Linked DNA regions of Homo sapiens: region 1 is linked to region 2. Evidence: fine-mapped expression QTL. A gene starts in region 2. The other region holds a variant in brackets. All regions are shown on one strand. Distances are from middle to middle.

Region 1 (5,215 bases), 33 kb before region 2:
ACCCCTTTCCTGCTTTTCTGGAGGGTAAGGACCCCTGAACCCCTTGCCTCCATGTCTCTACTCTCTCTTTTCTCTGGGCTTGCCTCCTTCACTATGGGCAAACTTCCACCCTCCATTCCTCCTTCTTCTCCCTTAGCCTGTGTTCTTAAGAACTTAAAACCTCTTCAACTCTCACCTGACCTAAAATCTAAGCATCTTATTTTCTTCTGAAATGCCGCTTGACCCCAATACAAACTCAACAGTAGTTCCAAATAGCCAGAAAATGGCACTTTCAATTTTCCATCCTACAAGATCTAAATAATTCTTGTCATAAAATGGGCAAATGGTCTGAGTTGCCTGATGTCCAGGCATTCTTTTACACATCAGTCCCTCTCTAGTCTCTGTTTCCAATGTGACTCCTCCCAAATCCTCCTTCTTCCCTCCCGCCTGTCCCCTCAGTCCCAACCCCAAGCATCTCTGAGTCTTTCCAGTCTTACTTTTCTACAGACCCATCTGACCTTTCCCCTCCTCCTCAGGCTGCTCATCACCAGGCCGAGCTAAGTCCCAATTCTTCCTCAGCCTCTGCTCCTCCACCCTATAATCTTTTTATCACATCCCCTCCTCACACCTGGTCCGGTTTACAGTTTCATTCCGTGAGTAGCCCTCCCCCACCTGCCCAGCAATTTCCTCTTAAAAATGTGGCTGAAGCTAAAGGCATAGTCAAGGTTAATGCTCCTTTTTCTTTATCTGACCTCTCCCAAATCAGTTAGCATTTAGACTCTTTTTCATCAAATATAAAAAACCCAGCCCAGTTCATGGCTCCTTCGGCAGCAACTCTGAGACGCTTTACAGCCCTAGACCCTAAAAGGTCAAAAGGCCGTCTTATTCTCAATATACATTTTATTACCCAATCTGCTCCCAACATTAAATAAAACTCCAAAAATTAAATTCCGGCCCTCAAACCCCACAACAGGATTTAATTAACCTCGCCTTCAAGGTGTAAAATAATAGAAAAAAGTTGCAATTCCTTGCCTCCACTGTGAGACAAACCCAGCCACAACTCCAGCACACAAGAACTTCCAAATGCCTGAACCGCAGCGGCCAGGCGTTCCTCCAGAACCTCCTCCCCCAGGAGCTTGCTACAAGTGCCAGAAATCTGGCCACCAGGCCAAGGAATGCCTGCAGCCCAGGATTCCTCCTAAGCCGCGTCCCATCTGTGCGGGACCCCACTGGAAATCGGACTTTTCAACTCACCTGGCAGCCACTCCCAGAGCCCCTGGAATTCTGGCCCAAGGCTCTCTGACTCCTTCCCAGATCTTGGCTTAGCGGCTGAAGACTGACGCTGCCCGATCACCTCGGAAGCCCCCTAGACCATCACAGACGCCGAGCTTCGGGTAACTCTCACAGTGGAGGGTAAGTCTGTCCCCTTCTTAATCAATACCGAGGCTACTCACTCCACATTACCTTCTTTTCAAGGGCCTGTTTCCCTTGCCTCCATAACTGTTGTGGGTATTGACAGCCAGGCTTCTAAACCTCTTAAAACTCCCCAACTCTGGTGCCAATTTAGACAGTACTCTTTTAAGCACTCCTTTTAGTTATCCCCACCTGCCCAGTTCCTTACTAGGACGAGACACTTAAACTAAATTATCTGCTTCCCTGACTGTTCCTGGATTACAGCTACATCTCATTGCTGCCCTTCTTCCCAATCCAAAGCCTCCTTTGTGTCCTCCTCTTGTATTCCCCCACCTTAACCCACAAGTATAAGATACCTCTACTCCCTCCTTGGCGACCAATCATGCACCCCTTACCATCTCATTAAAACCTAATCAGCTTTACCCCGCTCAATGCCAATATTCCATCCCACAGCATGCTTTGAAAGGATTAAAGCCTGTTATCACTCGCCTGCTACAGCATGGCCTTTTAAAGCCTATAAACTCTCCTTACAATTCCCCCATTTTACCTGTCCAAAAACCAGACAAGTCTTACAGATTAGTTCAGGATCTGCGCCCTATCAACCAAATTGTTTTGCCTATCCATCCTGTGGTGCCCAACCCGTACACTCTTTTGTCCTCAATACCTTCCTCCACAACTCACTATTCCGTTCTCCATCTTAAAGATGCTTTTTTCACTATTCCCCTGCACCCCTCGTCCCAGCCTCTCTTTGCTTTCACTTAGACTGACCTGACACCCATTAGGCTCAGCAAATTACCTGGGCTGTACTGCCGCAAGGCTTCACAGACAGCCCCCATTACTTCAGTCAAGCCCAAATTTCATCCTCATCTGTTACCTATCTCGGCATAATTCTCATAAAAACACACGTGCTTTCCCTGCTGATCATGTCCGATTAATCTCCCAAACCTCAATCCCTTACAAAACAACAACTCCTTTCCTTCCTAGGCATGGTTAGTGCGGTCAGAATTCTTACACAAGAGCCAGGACA[G/A]CACCCTGTAGCCTTTCTGTGCAAACAACTTGACCTTACTGTTTTAGCCTAGCCCTCATGTCTGCAAGCAGCGGCTGCTGCTGCTTTAATACTTTTAGAGGCCCTAAAAATCACAAACTATGCTCAACTCACTCCCTACATTTCTCATAACTTCCAAAATCTATTCTCTTCCTCTTACCTGACGCATATACTTTCTGATCCCCGGCTCCTTCAGCTGTACTCACTCTTTGTTAAGTCCCACAATTACCATTGTTCCTGGCCCAGACTTCAATCCAGCCTCCCACATTATTCCTGATATCACACCTGACCCCCATGACTGTCTCTCTGATCCACCTGACATTCACCCCATTTCCCCATATTTCCTTCTTTCCTGTTCCTAACCCTGATCATGCTTGATTTATTGATGGCGGTTCCACTAGGCCTAATCGCCACACACCAGCAAAGGCAGGCTATGCTATAGTACAAGCCACTAGCCCGCCTCTTAGAACCTCTCATTTCCTTTCCATCGTGGAAATCTATCCTCAAGGAAATAACTTCTCAGTGTTCCATCTGCTATTCTACTACTCCTCAGGGATTATTCAGGCCCCCTCCCTTCCCTACACATCAAGCTCGAGGATTTGCCCCCACCCAGGACTGGCAAATTAGCTTTACTCAACATGCCCTGAGTCAGATAAGTAAAATACCTCTTAGTCTAGGTAGACACTTTCACTGGATAGGTAGAGTCCTTTCCTACAGGGTCTGAGAAGGCCACCGCAGTCATTTCTTCCCTTCTGTGAGACATAATTCCTCAGTTTAGCCTTCCCACCTCTATACAGTCTGATAACAGACCAGCCTTTATTAGTCAAATCAGCCAAGCAGTGTTTCAGGCTCTTAGTATTCAGTGAAACCCTTATATCCCTTACGGTCCTCCATCTTCAAGAAAAGTAGAATGGACTAAAGGTCTTTTAAAAACACACCTCACCAAGCTCAGCCACCAACTTAAAAAGGACTGGACAATACTTTTACCACTTTCCCTTCTCAGAAGTCAGACCTGTCCTCAGAATGCTACAAGGTACAGCCCATTTAAGCTCCTGTATAGATGCTCCTTTTTATTAGGCCCCAGTCTCATTCCAGACACCAGACCAACTTAGACTGTGCCCCAAAAAAATTGTCATCCCTACTATCTTCTGTCTAGTCATACTCCTATTCACCATTCTCAACTACTCATACATGCCCTGCTCTTATTTACATTGCCAGTTTACACTGTTTCTCCAAGCCATCACAGCTGATATCTCCTGGTGCTATCCCCAAACTGCCACTCTTAACTCTTAAAGTAAATAAATAATCTTTGCTGGCAGGACTATGCTGAATCTCCTTAGGCACTCTCTAATCAGATGTCCTGAGTCGTCCCAATTCTTAGACCTTTTATACCTGTTTTTCTCCTTCTGTTATTCCATTTAGTTTTTCAATTCATACAAAACTGTATCCAGGCCATCACCAATAATTCTACACGACAAATGTTTCTTCTAACAACCCCACAATATCACCCCTTACCACAAAATCTTCCTTCAGCTTAATCTCTCCCACTCTAGGTTCCCACGCTGCCCCTAATCCCGCTCGAAGCAGCCCTGAGAAACATTGCCCATTATCTCTCCATACCACCCCCAAAAATTTTCACAGTCCCAACACTTCACCACTATTTCATTTTATTTTTCTTATTAATATAAGAAGACAGGAAAGTCAGGCCTCTGAGCCAAAGCTAAGCCATCATATCCCCTGTGACCTGCACGTACACATCCAGATGGCCAGTTCCTGCCTTAACTGATGACATTCCACCACAAAAGAAGTGAAAATGGCCTGTTCCTGCCTTAACTGATGACATTGTCTTGTGAAATTCCTTCTCCTGGCTCATCCTGGCTCAAAAGCTCCCCCACTGAGCACCTTGTGACTCCCACTCCTGCCTGCCAGAGAACAACTCCCCTTTGACTGTAATTTTCCTTTACCTACCCAAATCTTATAAAATGGCCCCACCCCATCTCTCTTTGCTGACTCTCTTTTCGGACTCAGCCCGCCTGCACCCAGGTGAAATAAACAGCCATGTTGCTCACACAAACCTGTTTGGTGGTCTCTTCACATGGACGTGCATGAAAATACATAATAATAAAATTATTAATAATAAAATGTAGTAATAATGGCTAATACTCATTAGTGCTTATTCTATGAAGACACAATTTCGTGTATGCATTAATTCACTTAAATTCAATATTAATGGGTCCCCAGTACTATCAAACATGAGAGGATATCCATATAATTATAAAATAGTCACATGGTGTTAGAAGTTCTAAGGAATTATGAAAGGCTAGAATGAATAAAGGATAGACTGGGGTTTTTTGTTGTTTTTTTTTGTTTGTTTTTTTAGAACATATAGGGCAATGTTTCTCTAAGTCAAGTCAAGTCCCTAACAGAACAACCTGGGTGCTTAGTCCACCATAGACTTAATCAAAATTTCATCCAATGGCTCAGATTTAACCTTGAGAAGAGTTAGTCCTTCAAGCAGATAAATCATGGTCCCAGGATTTTTCACAAGAATCAGGGAATTTCTTGAGTGTTAAGCACTCACTAAATGTGAAAGAAATACCACTGTATGGAAAAGGTCTGCAAGATTTAGAGGTAAAAGATTAGAATATGATTACCTCCATATCAGTAACTTAGACACGGAGATTACCATTATCATTAATATGATGCTCAAGACTTTCTAATCCCATTAAAGAAAACTGGACAGAATGCAAAGTGGGCTGGGTGCAGTGGCTCACACCT
Region 2 (5,215 bases):
TTATTTACTGTCTCCAGCTTTGGTCCGTCTAAGTAGGTACTGTTTTCTGTTTACTTATCCCCCAGCTTTAGGCCTGGAACAATGTTGAACATAGTGTCACAGGCCCTGGTGCCAGACAGGATCAGGGGCTGCGGAATATTTACAGTTTCCCTTCTTCTGCTTCCATAAATGAAATGGACAGTCTGAATGGAGAAAATCAAGGGCCAGCTGGCTAAAAACACAACTGGCAGCAAAACAGTTGGGCCCCTTCCAAGAGCTGGTGTTTAAAGAGAGGCCATTTAAAGAGCAAAGTCCACCTACCACAATAGTGGGCCAGGACACTAGCTGTAGGATGAAACAATGCAATTTCACTCAAAATGATTTTTGTTTCCAAAGTTTGGAAACTAGATGTGCCCCCTTCTTCCCAAGAAATTTTCTAGTCTTAGGGTCAATCCCTTAAAATAGCCAATCTTTCCACCCATAACAAATAACAAATGTATAACTTTGAGAATGTTAAACAAATTATGTGCCACGCTGGCCAAAGTCTTATTTTTGCTTAAGTTCACGCAAACACACAAAAATAAAATTAAGAAACCGAGATGGGAAAAGACAGGAACAAAAAATGACTTAAGAATTTAGATGGGATAGCATGGAAGACAGTCAGACACTTAAACTAATTTGAGAGGTTATTAATATATCATGAGGCCAACTGACAAACACAATTTTCTTTCTTTCTTTCTTTCAATAAAATGTTACTCCAACTTTGCTGTTTAAGAAAAAATGCAATAATCTTCTTGGGGGAAAACTCACATTGAAGCACTTGGTAACTAGTACACAAATGCTAATGTTTTTTTTTTTTTCCTTGTAGGCTCTGATGATGACAACCTTAGGCTGGCCATTTACTTAACCCTAAAATCTCTGACAAGTGCCAAATCAGAAATACGCATAACACCATATTCAGGGAGATAGATTTATACTCCAAACAATTCTGTATATTGTGAGATCATCCTTTTTTTACAGCCCAGGAGCAGATGAATTTGAAGGTGATTTCGCGAAGCTGCCTCTTTTTGTATATACATACATGCATAAATGATTGGAAAGAGAAATGAAAGAGGGCCCCAGATAAAAAGGAAAGGCGTTCAGCTAGATAGGTGCATCCAGCAGCAGTTCTCTGATGCTATAATCCCGAAAACAGATAAAGCCACTAGCTTGAGAGCCCCTGGAAGGCATTACCTCTATATAGGGCACGATCTTGCAGGAGAAGTCCTCCAGCAGCCACTTCTTGGTCAGCTCGTGGAAGATGACCAGCGGAAGGCAGAAGAAGATGATGAGAAAGTCCCAGAAGGCCAGGTTGGCCAAGAGGGAGTTGGAGATGCTCCGCATGTAGTAGTTGTGGCACACGATGCACATCACCGCCAGGTTGCCAATGATGCCGGTCCCGAAGATCACCACGGACAGACACATGACCGCGTAGGCTCCATAGGACTCCTGGGTCAGCGGGTAGAAGGGGTTCTTCAGTCTCACACGCCGGTTCGTGCTGTTTCCCCGGCGGGGACCCCCAGGCTCATGGATTCCTTCACCCAAGGATCCATTCTGGGCCAGCGCCCGGCCCGGGAGTGCAATTGTCCACCCTTCGTGCCCCGCCAGTCCATTGGCCGTCTTGGACAGGGGCTTGTGGTGGGAACCCTGGAGTTTCCCGGCTCTCCTTGGCCAGTAAAAAAGATCGCTGGCTCCGGGGACTGTCTTCACACTCTGCTCCTGGCTACGCCCGGAAATGCCAGCGCCTCTGGGACCCTTCTCTTCCTCCTCTGAGATCTGAAGGAAGAGCTGGAGGGCCGTGGGGTTCCCTCTCCCCAAAGTTTCAGAAGGCTCCTGACCCCGAGCACCTTTCCACCTCCAGGGGCCAGGTGGCCTGGTTGGAGGTCCCGGGGGTCCGGCTGCCGACGCCTCCGCCCCTCTGCCTGCAGCCGGGTCACGGCCCGGGGCCGCCGGCAGGTCCCAGGAGGGTCCCGCAAGAAACGCTGCCCCCTGCTCCTCCCTGGGTGCTCGGGCTCGCAGAACGTCTCTTGCAGAATTTCCCGGTCCCCAGGCGTCCCTGCCGCGGCGCTGGATCACTGTAGGTGCACAGCTCTCCCCCAGACAAGTTTCGTTTCTGGACGCAGGGGCGACCCCGAGGGCAGAAGAGGCAGACACCTTGAGCAGTAGCAGAAGCAGTAGCCGCGACATGCGGGCGAGAAGCGCGCCCGGGGCTCGCATGGCTTGGTGAGGGCACACCCGGCAGCCGCAGCTCCTGCTTAGTTAGGATCGACACCTGCTGCCGAAGTTGCTGCTGAGAGTTAGGCACATGTCACATACTCACCCCCGCCCGGGTAGCGGGGAACCGGAGATTAGGGTGATAGCGGAAGATCGGTCTTGGGGGTCACACACACGCCCCCTATAATCCTTCCTCCTTTGGCATCTTGTGCATTTCTCAGCCAAGTTGAGTCCCAGCAAGGTATGCCCTCCAAGGTTCCTAGAGGGAATAGGCTACTCCCGGTGGCTGACCTTGAAAAGTTGCAATCAACACCTGACTGTTGATTACTGTTGAGACTCGGGGGAGCCCAGACGAAGCCCCACACTCCTCACTGCCTTTGGGTGGGGGTGGTGGCCTTCTTGGTAACAGTTGCTCTGCCTATTTACATCCTTTCGACAGCGTTTGATCCAGTTGCAAGCCGAGGTCTCTAGAGGAAAAGAAAAACAAGTCCCCCTCCCCCAGACGACTCGCAGTCACAACCCCGCTCCCAGCTCGCTGGAAACACGTTGCAAACAGTCCGAAGCAGCGCTGATGCGCCGGCGAAACTCTTGCCCCACCTAACCCCAGCGACTTGCGAGCCTACTGCTGCCGAGGAGAAGCGGGATTCCAACCCCGCGGCCACTGCCAAAGTTGCTTCTCCTCCAGCTCAAAGTTGACGACGGGGCGAAGCAGGCTGCTGGACGGCGTGCCGCCGCAGAGAAGGAAATCGTGGGGAGAAGGGGGAGAAGAGGGCGCCGCTCGTCGGTGGACAGTGCCGCTAGCCGCGGGAGCTAGTCACTGCCACAGCGGGCTCAGCCCGGACGGGAAGGGTGGTGCCTGGAACCGCCGCGGGCCAGGCAGTGCGCGGCCGGGAAGGGGAGGTGGCCCGGCCTCGCCCCCGCGCTCCAGCCGCTGCGCGCGCCCGCGAAGCTCGACTCTCGGCTCGTTGCCTCCTCCCACTCCTTCGCCTCCTCCTCGGAGAGATACTGGTTTGTGGGGAGACGGGATCCCCTGGTGGTTCACCACTCACTAAACCCACACACGTTTCATTCAAGCCATTTGTAGCGGCTTCCACTCGGAGGAGCTGGGAGGGAACAAGGGCGGAGGCGCGGAGCCTGCGCGGCTCGAGGCTAGGGATGGGCGGGACAGGTTAATTCCCCAGCTGTCGAAACCAGCCTGACAGGTCCCCGAGCCCGGGCTAGGGGCGGGTGCGGGGCGGGAGTGGGGGGTGGGGGTGGGAACGGGAATATGAGAGCGGTCGGGGGAGGGAAGAGAGGAGGGTAGCAGGGGAGTGAGCAGCAGGGTCCCCTCCAATCTGTTGCGGCTGATGCGCATGCCCAGGTCTCAGCTCTGGGGGGCGAGGGGCGGGGCGGGGGAGGGGCGGACGGGGGTTGGGCCGCGGGGAGTAAGAAGGTGAAACCTCACCTCCTCAGGTATTCCCTAGAGATAGGAGAGAATGGGAGCTCAGAGGTGTCAGTCATAGAGAATTACCAGTTCCAGGATTGAGATGCAGAGCGAGAAAGCTCAGGATGCACCATTACCTTTAACACTGAGTTGGGAAGCATCCTACCATGGGTTACTTCGTACCACCCAGAGCATAGTGAGGTAGTTGTATTTGATGAAGTAGTGGGAAATGACTGGAGGCAGAAAATTACTCGAACAGCACTCCCAGCACGGCTGTCCATGCCTTTCCAACCTTTCTACTATATCCCACAACCCTGTCAAAACTGTCAGGGCATAGCTAATAAAATAGACAAATTAATGAAGAGAAAATGATAGAGGAAGAAATAAACACATTCTGAATTTTTTTTTTAAACAGAGTCTTGCTGTGTCGCCCAGGCTGGAGTGCAGTGGTGCGATCTCGACTCACTGCAACCTCCGCCTCCCCGGGTTCAAGCGATTCTCCTGCCTCAGCCTCCCAAGTAGCTGAGACTACAGGCACCCGCCACCATGCCCGGCTAATTTTTTTTGTATTTTTAGCAGAGACGGGGTTTCACTATGTTGGCCAGGCTGGTCTTGAGCTCCTGACCTCGTGATCCGCCCGCCTCGGCCTCCCAAAGCGCTGGCATTACAGGCGTGAGCCATCACACCCGGCCTGAATTTTTTTAAAGCAACACATCTAGAGAGGCAGGAGAAAACACAATGGAACATATGATACCAATTGTGGTAAATAGAATAATGCCCCCCCAAAAAAATGTCCGAATCCTAATTCCTAATACCTGTGAGTATGTTACCTTACAGAGCAAAAGGGATTTTGCCAATGCAATTCAGCTAAGACTCTTGAGATGGGGAGAGTATCGTGATTATCCAGGTGGGTACACTATAATCACAAGAGCCCTTACAAATGAGAGGCAGGAGGGTCAGAGTAAAAACAAACACAAGCCAAGTGATGTGGGCAATCTCTGGAAGCTAGAATGGGCATAAAAAAGGATCTACTAGCCCATTTGAGACTTCTGACCTCCATAACTGTAAGATAATGAATGTGTGTTGTTTTAAGCCACAAAATTTATGGTTATTTGTTGCAGTAGCAATAGTAAACTAATACACCATTAAATCTAAAAATGGAGACAACAGGAATAATTGTATAGAAAAACATAAACTACCAAAAATAGTTCAAGAAGAAAATTTTCAGAAACTGTAATCGAACTATAACATTAAAGAAATCAAATCATTCATCAAGATCTACCCAGAGGAAAGTGCTAGACCTTAGCATATCCTGCGGAATAAATATACATTTATACAAAATGTTTTAAAGCTACTCAGTTCATTTTGTGAAGGCAGAATAACCTTAATGTCAAAATCAGACAAAGCCAGAAATAGGAAAAAATATAAGCTAATAGCACACATTCATTTGTACATTAATTCATTCATTTATATACACTAACTCATTCTCTCAAATTCACTACTTCATTAAAGAAATATTCTGCTCAAGTTACTTAGGTCAGAGCAGTGAATAAAATAAAG

What was found. PIP is the estimated chance that this variant, and not a neighbour inherited with it, causes the effect.
Region 1: its variant is the best candidate, but not a certain one, in a credible set for the expression of GPR37 in lung (TOPMed, PIP 0.56).

What each region holds. Positions count from the first base shown.
Region 1 is chr7:124,730,189-124,735,403 of GRCh38, forward strand. No RefSeq gene overlaps it. Among named protein-coding and RNA genes, the nearest start is that of GPR37, 33 kb to the right of the region's middle. RefSeq lists enhancers at 1,183-1,683, 1,837-2,338, 3,981-4,517. The variant G/A (reference allele first, on the strand shown) is at 2,420.
Region 2 is chr7:124,762,742-124,767,956 of GRCh38, forward strand. It overlaps GPR37 (G protein-coupled receptor 37), which reads right to left and starts at 3,051. Exons shown (of 2, transcript NM_005302.5): 1 at 1,213-3,051. The coding sequence starts at 2,235. RefSeq lists a silencer at 3,063-3,192.